Regions from separate parts of the Homo sapiens genome. Here region 1 is linked to region 2. Evidence: fine-mapped QTL for protein levels in blood plasma. A gene starts in region 2. The other region holds a variant in brackets. All regions are shown on one strand. Distances are between the middles of the regions. Region 1 overlaps TOP3A (DNA topoisomerase III alpha). Region 2 holds the start of SHMT1 (serine hydroxymethyltransferase 1).

What was found. A credible set is the group of variants that fine-mapping cannot tell apart. PIP is the chance, under the fine-mapping model, that this variant and not a neighbour inherited with it causes the effect. Protein levels are from antibody-based Olink assays in UK Biobank. Linkage for the fine-mapping came from a reference panel and not from the study's own genotypes, which makes the PIPs less certain.
Region 1: its variant is the best candidate, but not a certain one, in a credible set for the plasma level of the SHMT1 protein (UK Biobank, PIP 0.88).

What each region holds. Positions count from the first base shown.
Region 1 is chr17:18,308,502-18,311,499 of GRCh38, reverse strand. TOP3A (DNA topoisomerase III alpha) reads left to right here. Exons shown (of 19, transcript NM_004618.5): 2 at 2,559-2,618. Among named protein-coding and RNA genes, the nearest start is that of TOP3A, 5.0 kb to the left of the region's middle. The variant A/G (reference allele first, on the strand shown) is at 152.
Region 2 is chr17:18,359,978-18,368,499 of GRCh38, reverse strand. SHMT1 (serine hydroxymethyltransferase 1) reads left to right here and starts at 4,950. Exons shown (of 12, transcript NM_004169.5): 1 at 4,950-5,128. RefSeq lists a silencer at 4,856-5,325.

The DNA.
Region 1 (2,998 bases), 54 kb after region 2:
CAACATGGCAAAACCCCATCTCTACTAAAAATACAAAAATTAGCCAGGTGTGGTGGCGGGGTCCTGTAATCCCAGCTACTCACGAGGCTGAGGCAGGAGAATCGCTTCAACCCGGGAAGTGGAGCTTGCAGTGAGCCTAGATTGCGCCATT[A/G]CATTACAGCCTGGGCGACAGAGTGAGACTCCATCTCAAAAAAAAATTAGGCCAGGCATGGTGGCTCATACCTGTAATCCCAGCACTCTGGGAGGCTGAGGTGGGCGGATCATGAGGTCAAGAGATTGAGACCATCCTGGCTAACACGGTGAAACCCTGTCTCTACTAAAAATACAAAAAATTAGCCGGGCATGCTGGCAGACGCCTGTAGTCCCAGCTACTCGGGAGGCTGAGGCAGCAGAATGGCATGAACCCGGGAGGTGGAGCTTGCAGTGAGCCGAGATTGTGCCACTGCACTCCAGCCTGGGCAACAGAGTGAGACTCTGTCTCAAAAAAAAAAAAAAAAATTCATAGTTGTTGAATGCATGTTTGAGCTGAGCCTGAAAGTTTTACCAGGCAGTAGAAACTGTAAAGAACAACCTAGTGGCTTGAAACTGCTTGGCATATTCAGAAACAGTGAGAAGTTAGGGGTGTGGTGTGGTGGGAAGAGACACCGATGAGTTAAGCAAGAGCAGCAGTTGAGTGCAGATCATAAGAATCTTAGAGAGCCATGTAGGTTGAGTGGTAAAATGCACAGAAAATTGACCATTTTAATCATTTTGAAGTATATAGTTCAGTGGAATTTTGTCCACTAAATGTGCCACCATCATCATTATCTAGTTCCAGAAGGTTTTTTTTCACCCCAAGAGGAAGCCTCATATCCATTAAGCAGTCACTCCCCTTACCCTCTCCTCAGCCCCTCACAACCACGAATCTGCCTTCTTTCCCCATGGATTTGCCTGTTCTGGGCATTTCCTATAAGTGGACCCATATCTTACATGCTCTTTTGTGTCAGGTTTCTTTCACTTAACATAATCTTGAAGTCCATCCATGTTGTACCATGTATTAATATCAGTTCTTCATTCCTTTTTTTTGGTTTTTGAGAAGGAGTCTCTCTCACTGTCGCTCAGGCTGGAGTGCAGTGATGAGATCTCGGCTCATTGTAACCACCGCCTCCCAGGTTCAAGCGATTCTCCTGCCTCAGCCTCCCAAGTAGCTGGGATTACAGGCACCCACCACCACGCCCAGCTAATTTTTTGTATTTTTAGTAGAGACAGGGTTTCACTATGTTGGCCAGGCTGGTCTCAAACTCCTGACCTCATGATCCGCCCACCTCAGCCTCCCAAAGTGCTGGAATTACAGGCATGAGCCATTGCACCTGGCCTCTTCATTCCTTTTTATGGCTGAATAATATTCTATCATATGGATAGATCATATTTCATTTTACCATACATCAGTTGATGGACATTTGGGTTGTTTTCATCTTTTGACTATTGTGAATAGAACTTCTATAGACATTCGCTGGGCGTGGTGGCTCACACCTGTAATCCCAGCACTTTGGGAGGCCGAGGCAGGTGGATCACGAGGTCAGGAGATTGAGAACATTCTGGCTAACACGGTGAAACCCCATCTCTACTAAAAATACAAAAAAATTAGCCGGGCGTGGTGGCAGGTGCCTGTAGTCCCAGCTACTCGGGAGGCTGAGGCAGGAGAATGGTGTGAACCCGGGAGGTGGAGCTTGCAGTGAGCCGAGATCACGCCACTGGACTCCAGCCTGGGCGACAGAGCCAGACTCCATCTCAAAAAAAAAAAAAAAAAAGAACTTCTATAGACTTTCATGTACAAGTTTTTGTTTGAATGTGTTTTTTTGTTTGTTTTTTGTTTTTTGAGACAGTCTCGCTCTGTCACCCAGGCTAGAGTGCAGTGGCGCCATCTCCACTCACTGCAACGTCCACCTCCTGGGCTCAAGTGATTCTCCTGCCTCAGCCTCCCCAAGTAACTGGGATTACAGGCACACACCACCACACCTGGCCAATTGTTGTATTTTTAGTAGAGATGGGGTTTCACCATGTTGGCCAGGCTGGTCTCGGACTCCTGACCTAAAGTGATCCAACTGTCTCAGCCTCCCAAAGTGTATTTGAATGCGTTTTTAATTCTTTTGGGTAAATTTGTAGGAGTGGAATTGCTGTGACATGTGATAACTCTGTAACTTTTTGAGGAAACACCAACATTTTCCAGAGTGGCCAAAGCATTTTACATTTCCACTGACAATGTCCAATTTCTCCACATCCTCAACAACACTTGTTATTTTACTTGTTTTTTTTATTATTCTATTTAATTATTATCCTAATGGGTATGGAGTGGTACCTCATCATGGTTTTGATTTGTGTTTTCCTAATGATTAATAACATTGAGCATCTTTTCATATGCTTGTTGGCCATTTCTTATCTTCTTTGGAGCAATGTTGGTTATATTTTTGGTATCATAACCAAGAAATCATTGCCAAATTCAGGATCAGAAAGAATTATACAAAGGAATCCATTGTTTTAAACGTAATTTATATTTTTTACTTATTTTTGTTTTATAGAGAGAAGGACTTTCAAAATTCAACAAGATCTATGAATTTGATTATCATCTGTATGGCCAGGTAGGTGCTAAAATATTTCTAAAATATTTCAATCATAAGCAAGAGAAAGTAGTCAGCCTCGTCATATGTAGAATATGTCGCTGTCTTAAGAATAACAACTGTTAACAACCTAAAGGTTCCTGGATATGGGGTGATCACTTTATAATTTATGAGGAGTTCTCTTTTTAATAAAATATGGTCCCATCTCAGCTCTTCATTACAAAAAAAAAAAGCTAATATACAATAGTTTGAGGAAAATTTAACTGATGCAAGAGGCGTCAGTTATACACCATATCATTAGAATGGTGATTGTATTCCTGTGACTTTTGGCTTTGAAGAGCTTATATTTATGTTTATTTCTTCCCAATCAGGTTTTTAAAAATGTCTTTAATAGAAGCTCC
Region 2 (8,522 bases):
AACAATTCCTTTGCATATCAATGGTCCAAATTAACCGATTAAAAGAGAGAGATTGGGCTGGGCGAAGTGGCTCACGCCTGTAATCCCAGCACTTTGGGAGGCCAAGGTGGGCGGATCACGAGGTCAGGAGATTGAGACCATCCTGTCTAACATGGTGAAACCCTGTCTCTACTAAAAATACAAAATATTAGCTGGGCGTGGTGGCGGGCGCCTGTAGTCCCAGCTACTTGGGAGGGTGAGGCAGGAGAAAGGCGTGAACCCAGGAGGCAGAGGTTGCAGTGAGCTGAGATCGTGCCACTGCGCTCCAGCCTGGGCAACAGAGCAAGACTCCATCTCAAAAAAAAAAAAGAAAAAAAGAGAGAGATTGTCAGAGTACAGCAAAAAACAAGATGCAACTATATGCTCCTTGTAAGAACTACACTTTAAAGATGTATATATTAAAAGTAAATGGATAAAGAAAGATCTACTATGCCAACACTAATCAAAAGGAAGCAGGAGTCCCTATATTAATTTCAGACAGTACAGGCTTCAGGGCAAGGAAAGTCATCAGGAACAGGACAGGTGCTGGGTGGCTTCCCAGCACTTTGGGAAGCCAAGGCGGGCAGATCACTTGAGGCCAGGAATTCAAGACAAGCCTGGCCAACATGACAAAACCCTGTCTTTACTAAAAATACAAAAATTAGCTGGGCATGGTTGCACTCGACTGTAATCCCAGCTACTCCTCAGGCTGAGGCACGAGACTCACTTGAGCCTGGGAGGCAGAGGCTGCAGTAAGCTGAGATCATGCCACTGTACTCCAGCCTGGTTGACAGAGACTCTGTCTCAAAAAAAAAAAAAAAAAGAAAGAAAAGAAAAGAAAAAGAAAAAGGAAGGAAGGAAGGAAGGGAAAGAAAAGAAAGTTGTGAGGGATAAGGACAGGTCATTACATAATGATTAAGGAGTCAATGCTCAAAGAAGACATAACAGTCCTTAACATGTATGATCCTGACAACAGAACATCAAAATATGTGACTGAAAAAGTGACAGCGCTGCAAGGAGAAACTATTATAGTTGGCGACTTCAATGTCCCTCTATCAGAAACGGACAGATCCAGCAGGCAGAAAATCTGTAACTCAGTAACACCCTCTGTAACTGGATATAATGGAAACCTATAGACTATTTCATACGATGACAGCAGAAAAAAAAGAAAAGAAAAACGCTTTGGTTTTTCCCGTATCTTAGGCTGGAGAGCAGTGGCACGATCACAGCTCACTGCAGCCTTGAACTCCTGGGCTCAGGAGATCCTCCCCACTCAGCACCCTGACTAGTTGGGAATACAGGTGTGCACTTCCACACCTGGCCAATTTTCTTTCTTTCTTTTTAATTTTTTTCATCATGTAGCACAAAATGTCATAATTTTTTTAATTTTAATTTTTCATAGAGATGGGATCTTGCTATGTTGCCCAGGCTACTCTTGAACTCCTGGCCTCAAGCAATCCTCCTACCTCAGCCTCCCAAAGTTCTAAGATTACAGGTGTGAGCCTGAGTCACCATGCCCAGCCACAAATAAAATATTTTTTAGCTGGGCGCGGTGGCTCACGCCTGTAATCCCAGCACTTTGGGAGGCCAAGGCGTGTGGATCATGAGGTCAGGAGATCGAGACCATCCTGGCCAAAATGGTGAAACCTCATCTCTACTAAAAATACAAAAATTAGCCAGACGTGGTGGTGGGTGCCTGTAGTCCCAGCTACTCAGGAGGCTGAAGCAGGAGAATTGCTTGAACCTGGGAGGCAGAGGTTGCAGTGAGCCAAGATTGTGCCACTGCACTCCAGCCTGGAGACAGAGCAAGACTCCATCTCAAAAAACAAAAAAAAAAAAAAAAAAATTTAAGTATCAGTAGGCCGGGCACAGTAGCTCATGCCTGTAATCCCAGCAGTTTGGGAAGCTGAGGCAGGTGGATCACTTGAGGTCAGGAGTTTGAGACCAGCCTGGCCAACATGGCAAAACCCCGTCTCTACTAAAAATACAAAAAAAAAAAAAAAAAAAAAAAAAAAGCCAGGTGTCATGGTGCATGCCCGTAACCCCAGCTACTCGAGAGGCTGAAGAAGGAGAATCACTTGAACCCAGGAAGCAGAGATTGCAGTGAGCCAAGATCACGCCACTGCACTCCAGCCTGGGCAACAGAGACTCTATCTAAAAAAAATAAAAAAATAAAAAATGAAGCATTCAGTGCTGGAGAAGAAATGGGAAATGGGTATTTCCCTAAATTGTTGCTGGGAGTGTGAATTGTTACAATGCTTGTAGAAAGCAATATGGCAATATTTACTAAAAGCTTGACCCAGAAATCTTACTTTGGATATTAAAAAACTCACGGGTTGGGCACAGTGGCTTATGCCTGTAATCCCACCACTTTGGGAGGCTGAAGCGAGCAGATCATCTGAGGTCAAGAGTTCGAGACCAGCCTGACCAACATAGTGAAACCTCGTCTCTACTAAAAATACAAAAATTAGCAGGGCGTAGTGGCGCACGCCTGTAGTCGCAGCTACTTGGGAGGCTGAGGTGGGAGAACTGCTTGAACCCGGGAGGCGGAAGCTGCAGTGAGCCGAGATCACACTATTGCACCTCAGCCTGGGCAACAGAGAGAGGCTCCGTCTCAAAAAAACAAACAACAGGCCGGGCGCGGTGGCTTGTGCCTGTAATCCCAGCACTTTGGGAAGCCGAGGCAGGTGAATCACGTGAGGTCAGGAGTTCGAGACCAGCCTGGCTGACATGGCGAATCCCTGTCTGTGAGAAAAATACAAAAATTAGCTGTGCACGGCCGGGCGCGGTGGCTCATGCCTGTAATCCCAGCACTTTGGGAGGCCGAGGCAGGCGGATCAGAGGTCAGGAGATCAAGACCATCCTGGCTAACACAGTGAAACCCTGTCTCTACTAAAAATATAAAAAATTAGCCGGACATGGTGGCGGGCGCCTGTAGTCCCAGCTACTCGGGAGGCTGAGGCAGGAGAACGGCGTGAACCTGGGAGGTGGAGATTGCAGTGAGCGAAGATCGAGCCACTGCACTCATGCCTGGGCGACAGAGCGAGACTCCGTCTCAAACAAACAAACAAAAAGAACAATTAGCTGGGCATGGTGGTGCACGCCTGTAGTCCCAGCTACTCGGGAAGCCGATGCAGGAGAATTGCTTGAACCAGAGAGGCAGAGGTTGCAGGGAGCCAAGATCGCATCACTGCACTCCAGCCTGGGTGACAGAGCGAGACTCCATCTCAAATAAATAAATAAATAAAACAAAAACAAAAAACAAAAACACTCACTATGTTGGCCAGGCGCAGTGGCTCTTGCCTGTTATCCCAGCACTTTGGGAGGCCGAGGAGGATGGATCACTTGAGATCAGGAGTTCAAGACCAGCCTAGCCAATATGGTGAAACCCTATCTCTACTAAACATACAAAAATTAGCCGGGTGTGGTGGCTCACGCCTGTAATCCTAGCACTTTGGCAGGCTGAGGCAGGTGGATCACAAGGTCAGGAGATCAAGACCATCCTGGCTAACATGGTGAAACCCTGTCTCTACTGAAAATACAAAAAATTAGCCAGGCGTGGTGGTGGGCTCCTGTAGTCCCAGCTACTCGGGAGGCTGAGGCAGGAGAATGGCATGAACCCAGGAGGCAGAGCTCGCAGTGGGCCTAGATCGCGCCACAGCACTCCAGCCTGGGCAAGAGAGGGAGACTCCGTCTCAAAAATAAAAAAAAATTAGCCAGGCGTGGTGGCGGAGGCCTGTAGTCCCAGCTACTCAGGAGGCTGAAGCAGGAGAATGACGTGAACCCGGGAGGTGGAGCTTGCAGTGAGCCGAGATCGCGCCACTGCACTCCAGCCTGGGCGACAGAGCAAGACTCTGTCTCAAAAAAAAAAAAAAGTTTTTTTTGTATTTTTTGTTTGTTTGTTTTTCGAGATGATGAGGGTCTCACTCTGTTGCCCAGGCTGGAGTACAGAGGCAAGATCATTGCTTACTGCAACCTCTGCCTCCCAGGCTCAAGTGATCCTCCCATTCAGCCCCCCAAGTAGCTGGGACTACAGGCGACTGCCACCACACCCAGCTAATTTTAAAATTATTTGTAGAGACAAGGTTTCACCATTTTGCCCAGGCTGGTCTTGAACTCCTAGGCTCAAGCCATCTGCCTCGGCCTCCCAAAGTGCTGGAATTACAGGGGTGAGCCACTGCGCCCGGTTTTTATCATTCTTATAATAATTATTGTTATCATTTGACAAATAAAAAAATTTATGACGCAGCCTCAGGTGGTCCTGACATGTGGCCCCGGTTTTTATCATTCTTAACAATAGGTAATGTTCATTGAGTCCTTATTGTGTGTCAGTATTTTATTTATCTTATTTTATTCTTCTTGAGACGTTGTCTCGCTCCGTCCCCCAGGCTGGAGTGCAGTGGCGCGATCTCGACTCACTGCAACCTCCGCCTCCTGGGAGGCAACATAGTTAGACCCCCATCTCTACTTCAACCTGGGGGACAGAGTGAGACCCTGTCTCAAAAAAATAAAAATAAAAAATAACAAAAATAATAATAATAAAGTGTCTGCTCTTGGATTATACACCTACAGAGTAATAATGTTGCAGTTTGGACGCACATTTGTCCTACTTTAAATGACCACCCTGCAAACTAAAAGTAGTACCATGAACAAAATTCACTCATAATCCCACGGCCCAAGCGACAGGCTTAAGTGAGGAAGGCCCTGTGTAGTCTTCCTGGAAATCTTGGTCCACACACCAGCCCTGCAGCCAAAGCGGGTCAGTTCTGCAGGTCCCTGCCCCAGGTGCGCAGCTGCACTACGCGGCCTCCGGCCCGCCCCGGAGAAACAGGCCCTGCCCGCCGCTGCGCCGCAGCCAATAGCGCGGGTGCGTTTGGTGGCGGCCCATGCTTGGCTGCGCTCTCTGATTGGGCGCCTCCGGGGGCGGGGCCAAGCCCAAGCCTGGCGCGCAGAGTGCACCTTCCTGAGCTCGAGCGGTCCAGCGCCAAGTTCGGGGTTTGGGGTTGGAGCGGCTGGTCACGTGGCTGGCCCGCGGCGGTGCGCGGGGCGTTGGGTCAGCGGGTCTGGGACTGGTGGCACCGGCGGCGGCGTAGGACGGAGGCGTCGCTAGGTACGTGCGCGGGCCGTGTTCCGGTAGGTGGGCGGCTTCGGGTCCGAGGGCCGCGGCGTCCCAGAGCCCGGGGGGTGCTTCGGCGTCCTCGCTGTCCCCCGCCGTACCCCACCCTCTGCAGCCGCAATGACGGGAGGGGAGCGCTTGGGTCGCGCCTGGGCTGGGGATCGGGCGGCGGCCAGCCGCAGCGCCCCAGTTCCAGGCACATTCGGTATGATGGGGTGGCGGCCCGTGGCCTTTGGCAAGAATGCGAAGGCTTATCGGGGATGTGAGTAGTAGCTCTCCACTGAACACTTTTCTCGTTGAGCATTTTCGATTTAAACAATCCTAGCTCCTTCACAACAAAGCTGCAAGTCAAGTGCTACTGTTTCCCCCATTTTACAGGTGAGGAAGGTGGTGGGGCCCTGAGAAAGGAGGCAACTTAAATGGCAGAGCCCGGAATAGAACCCGGGTTCTCAAAGCCTGCGCCCCTAAAGGCTGCGCGCAGGGTCGCTCCACTTTTGGCCCGTGCCACCAGATCCCTGTGGGGAATGAGCTCTTCCTGTTGCCCGCAATCTGCCACCCCCTGTTCTAGGAGACAAATGTTGCACTGTGAAGTTCTTGGCCCGGTGCCTTGGCTTCGAGATTCCGGGAGTTAAGTGACCCTTGGTCCAGCTGAGGTCAGCACAGATGCGGGCCTTCAATCGGGCAGTTACCCAGAGAATAGACTGGAAACACCAGTTTAGGTTCTTGCAGAAATAACATTGTAGGCCGGGCGCGGTGGCTCATGCCTGTAATCCCAGCATTTTGGGAGGCCGAGGTGGGCGGATCACTTGAGGTTAGTAGTTGGAGACCAGCCTGGCCAACATGGTGAAACCCCGTCTGTACTAAAAATACAAAAAAACCTGGCTGCCCATGGTGGCACACACCTATAATCCCAGCTACTCGGAAGGCTGAGGCAGGAGAATCGCTTGAACCCGGGAGGTGGAGGTTGCAGTGAGCGGAGATCACGCCACTGCACTCCAGCCTGAGTGACAGAGTGAGACTCTATCTCAAAAGAAAGAAAGAGAGAGAAAGAAAAGAAAAAAAAGAAAAGAAATAACGTAAATTTATTACTTGGGGGAACTTGGAACGGAAGTGGGTAATTGTGTTTTTATTTAGTGCAATGTCCTGGGACAAGGCCTTGGAACTGAAGAGAAACCATTGTTCAGATTCTGGCTCTTATATGGCTTTAGACAAGTTAGCTCCCTGGGCCTCAATTTCCTCTTCTGTAAAGAAGAGAACACAAAATGTGTGTGAGATAGAAGATGTGCAACAAGTTAGTTCCCTGAGCAGATCCTTGGCTGGATCCTCTTATGTGACAGAGGCCCAGGTAAGATTTGGAGGCATGGGGAGGCTGGTGACCTTGCAGGTGACTTCACTTACTAGGTCTTTTTCCCTGACGTTGAGGATCATGCCACACATGAGCAACAGTGCCTCTACAGAAATATCCAATGTTGTAATGACTGATGTTGCAGTGAGCTGTGTTGGCTGGGGGACTTACCAGGTATTACTGAATGTTAATGAAGATGTCCCTAAGATTCCCAATTTTCTTTTTTTTTTTTTTTGAGACGGAGTCTCACTCTGTTGCCCAGGCCGGAGAGCAGTGGCGCGATCTCGGCTCACTGCAAGCTCCGCCTCCCGGGTTCACGCCATTCTCCTGCCTCAGCCTCCTGAGTAGCTGGGACTACAGGCGCCGCCACCACGCCCAGCTAATTTTTTTTTATTTTTGTAGAGACGGGGTTTCACCATGTTAGCCAGGATGGTCTCGATCTCCTGACCTCGTGATCTGCCCGCCTCGGCCTCCCAAAGTGCTGGGATTACAGATGTGAGCCACTGCACCCAGCCCCCTTTTTTCTTTTTTGTTTTTTTTTTTGAAACGGAGTCTAGCTCTGTCACCCAGGCTGGAGTGCAGTGGCATGATCTCGGTCCACTGCAATCTCTACCTCACTGGTTCAAGCTATTCTCCTGGTCTCAGCCTGCTGAGTAGCTGGGATTACAGGCATATGCCACCATGCCTGGCTAATTTTTGTTTTTGTTTTTTTTTTTTTTTTTGAGACAGAGTCTTGCTCTGTTGTCCAGGCTGGAGTGCGGTGGCACGATCTCAGCTCACTGCAACCTCCTGGGTTCAAGCGATTATCTTGCCTCAGCCTCCTGAGTAGCTGGGGTTACAGGTGCGCACCACACACCCAGCTCATTTTTGTATTTTTAGTAGAGATGGAGTTTTACCGTGTTGGTCAGGCTGGTCTCGAACTCCTGACCTGGGGTGATGCACCCGCCTTGGCCTCCCAAAGTGCTTGGATTACAGGAATTGAGCCACTGCGCCCAGCTAATTTTTGTATTTTTAGTAGAGATGGGGTTTCACCATATTGGCCAGGCTGGTCTCAAACTCCTGACCTCAAGTGATCCACCCACCTCGGCCTCCCAAAGTGCTGGGATTACAGGCGTCAGCCACCGCGCCTGACCGCTTTTTTTTCTTTCTTTAGAGAGACGGGGTCTCCCTATGTTGCCCAGGGTGGTCTTGACTCTTGTGGTCCTGTGACTCCCCAGACTTCAGGTGTGCAAGCCTGATTTCTGACCCTTGGCCAGTCACACTTTCTCCTTTGTCTGGCCTTTGAACTTGGGGTGCTCTGCACTTGTTTACTCTGCGTAGATTGCTCTCATCCCAGATTTCATGGTTGGCTCCTTTCCACAGCTCAGATTTCAGCTCCGGGACGTTCCCTGACCCAGTCTAAAGTAGCCTTGCACCCATTTATTGCATCTTTCTTTCTTTTCTTTTCTTTTTTTTTTTTTTGAGACAGGGTCTTGTTCTCTTGGCCAGGCTGGAGTGCTGTGGGAAAATCTGGGCTCACTGCAGCCTCAACCTCCGGGACTCAAGTGATCATCCTGCCTCAGCCACCCAGAGTAGCTGAGAATACAGGCGTGCGCCACCAGGCTCGGGTAATTTTTTGTATTTTTTTTTAGAGACAGGGTTTTGCCATGTTGCCTAGGCTGGTCTTGAACGCCTGGGCTCAAGTGATCTTCTCGTCTCAGCCTCTCAGAGTTCTGGGATTACAAGTGTAAGCAACCATGCCTGGCCTTGTGTATTTCTTTTTGGTTTTTTTTGTGATGGAGTCTTGCTCTGTCACCCAGGCTGGAGTGCAATGGTATGATCTCGGCTCACTGCAACCTCCACCTCCTGGGTTCAAGCGATTTTCCTACCTCAGCCTCCCGCATAGCTGGTATTACAGGGGCCCACCACTATGCCCATCTAATTTTTGTATTTTTTAGTAGAGACGGGGTTTCGCTGTGTTGGCCAGGCTGGTCTCGAACTCCTGACCTCAGGTGATCCGCCCGCCTTGGCCTCCCAAAGTGCTGGGGTTACAGGTGTGAGCCA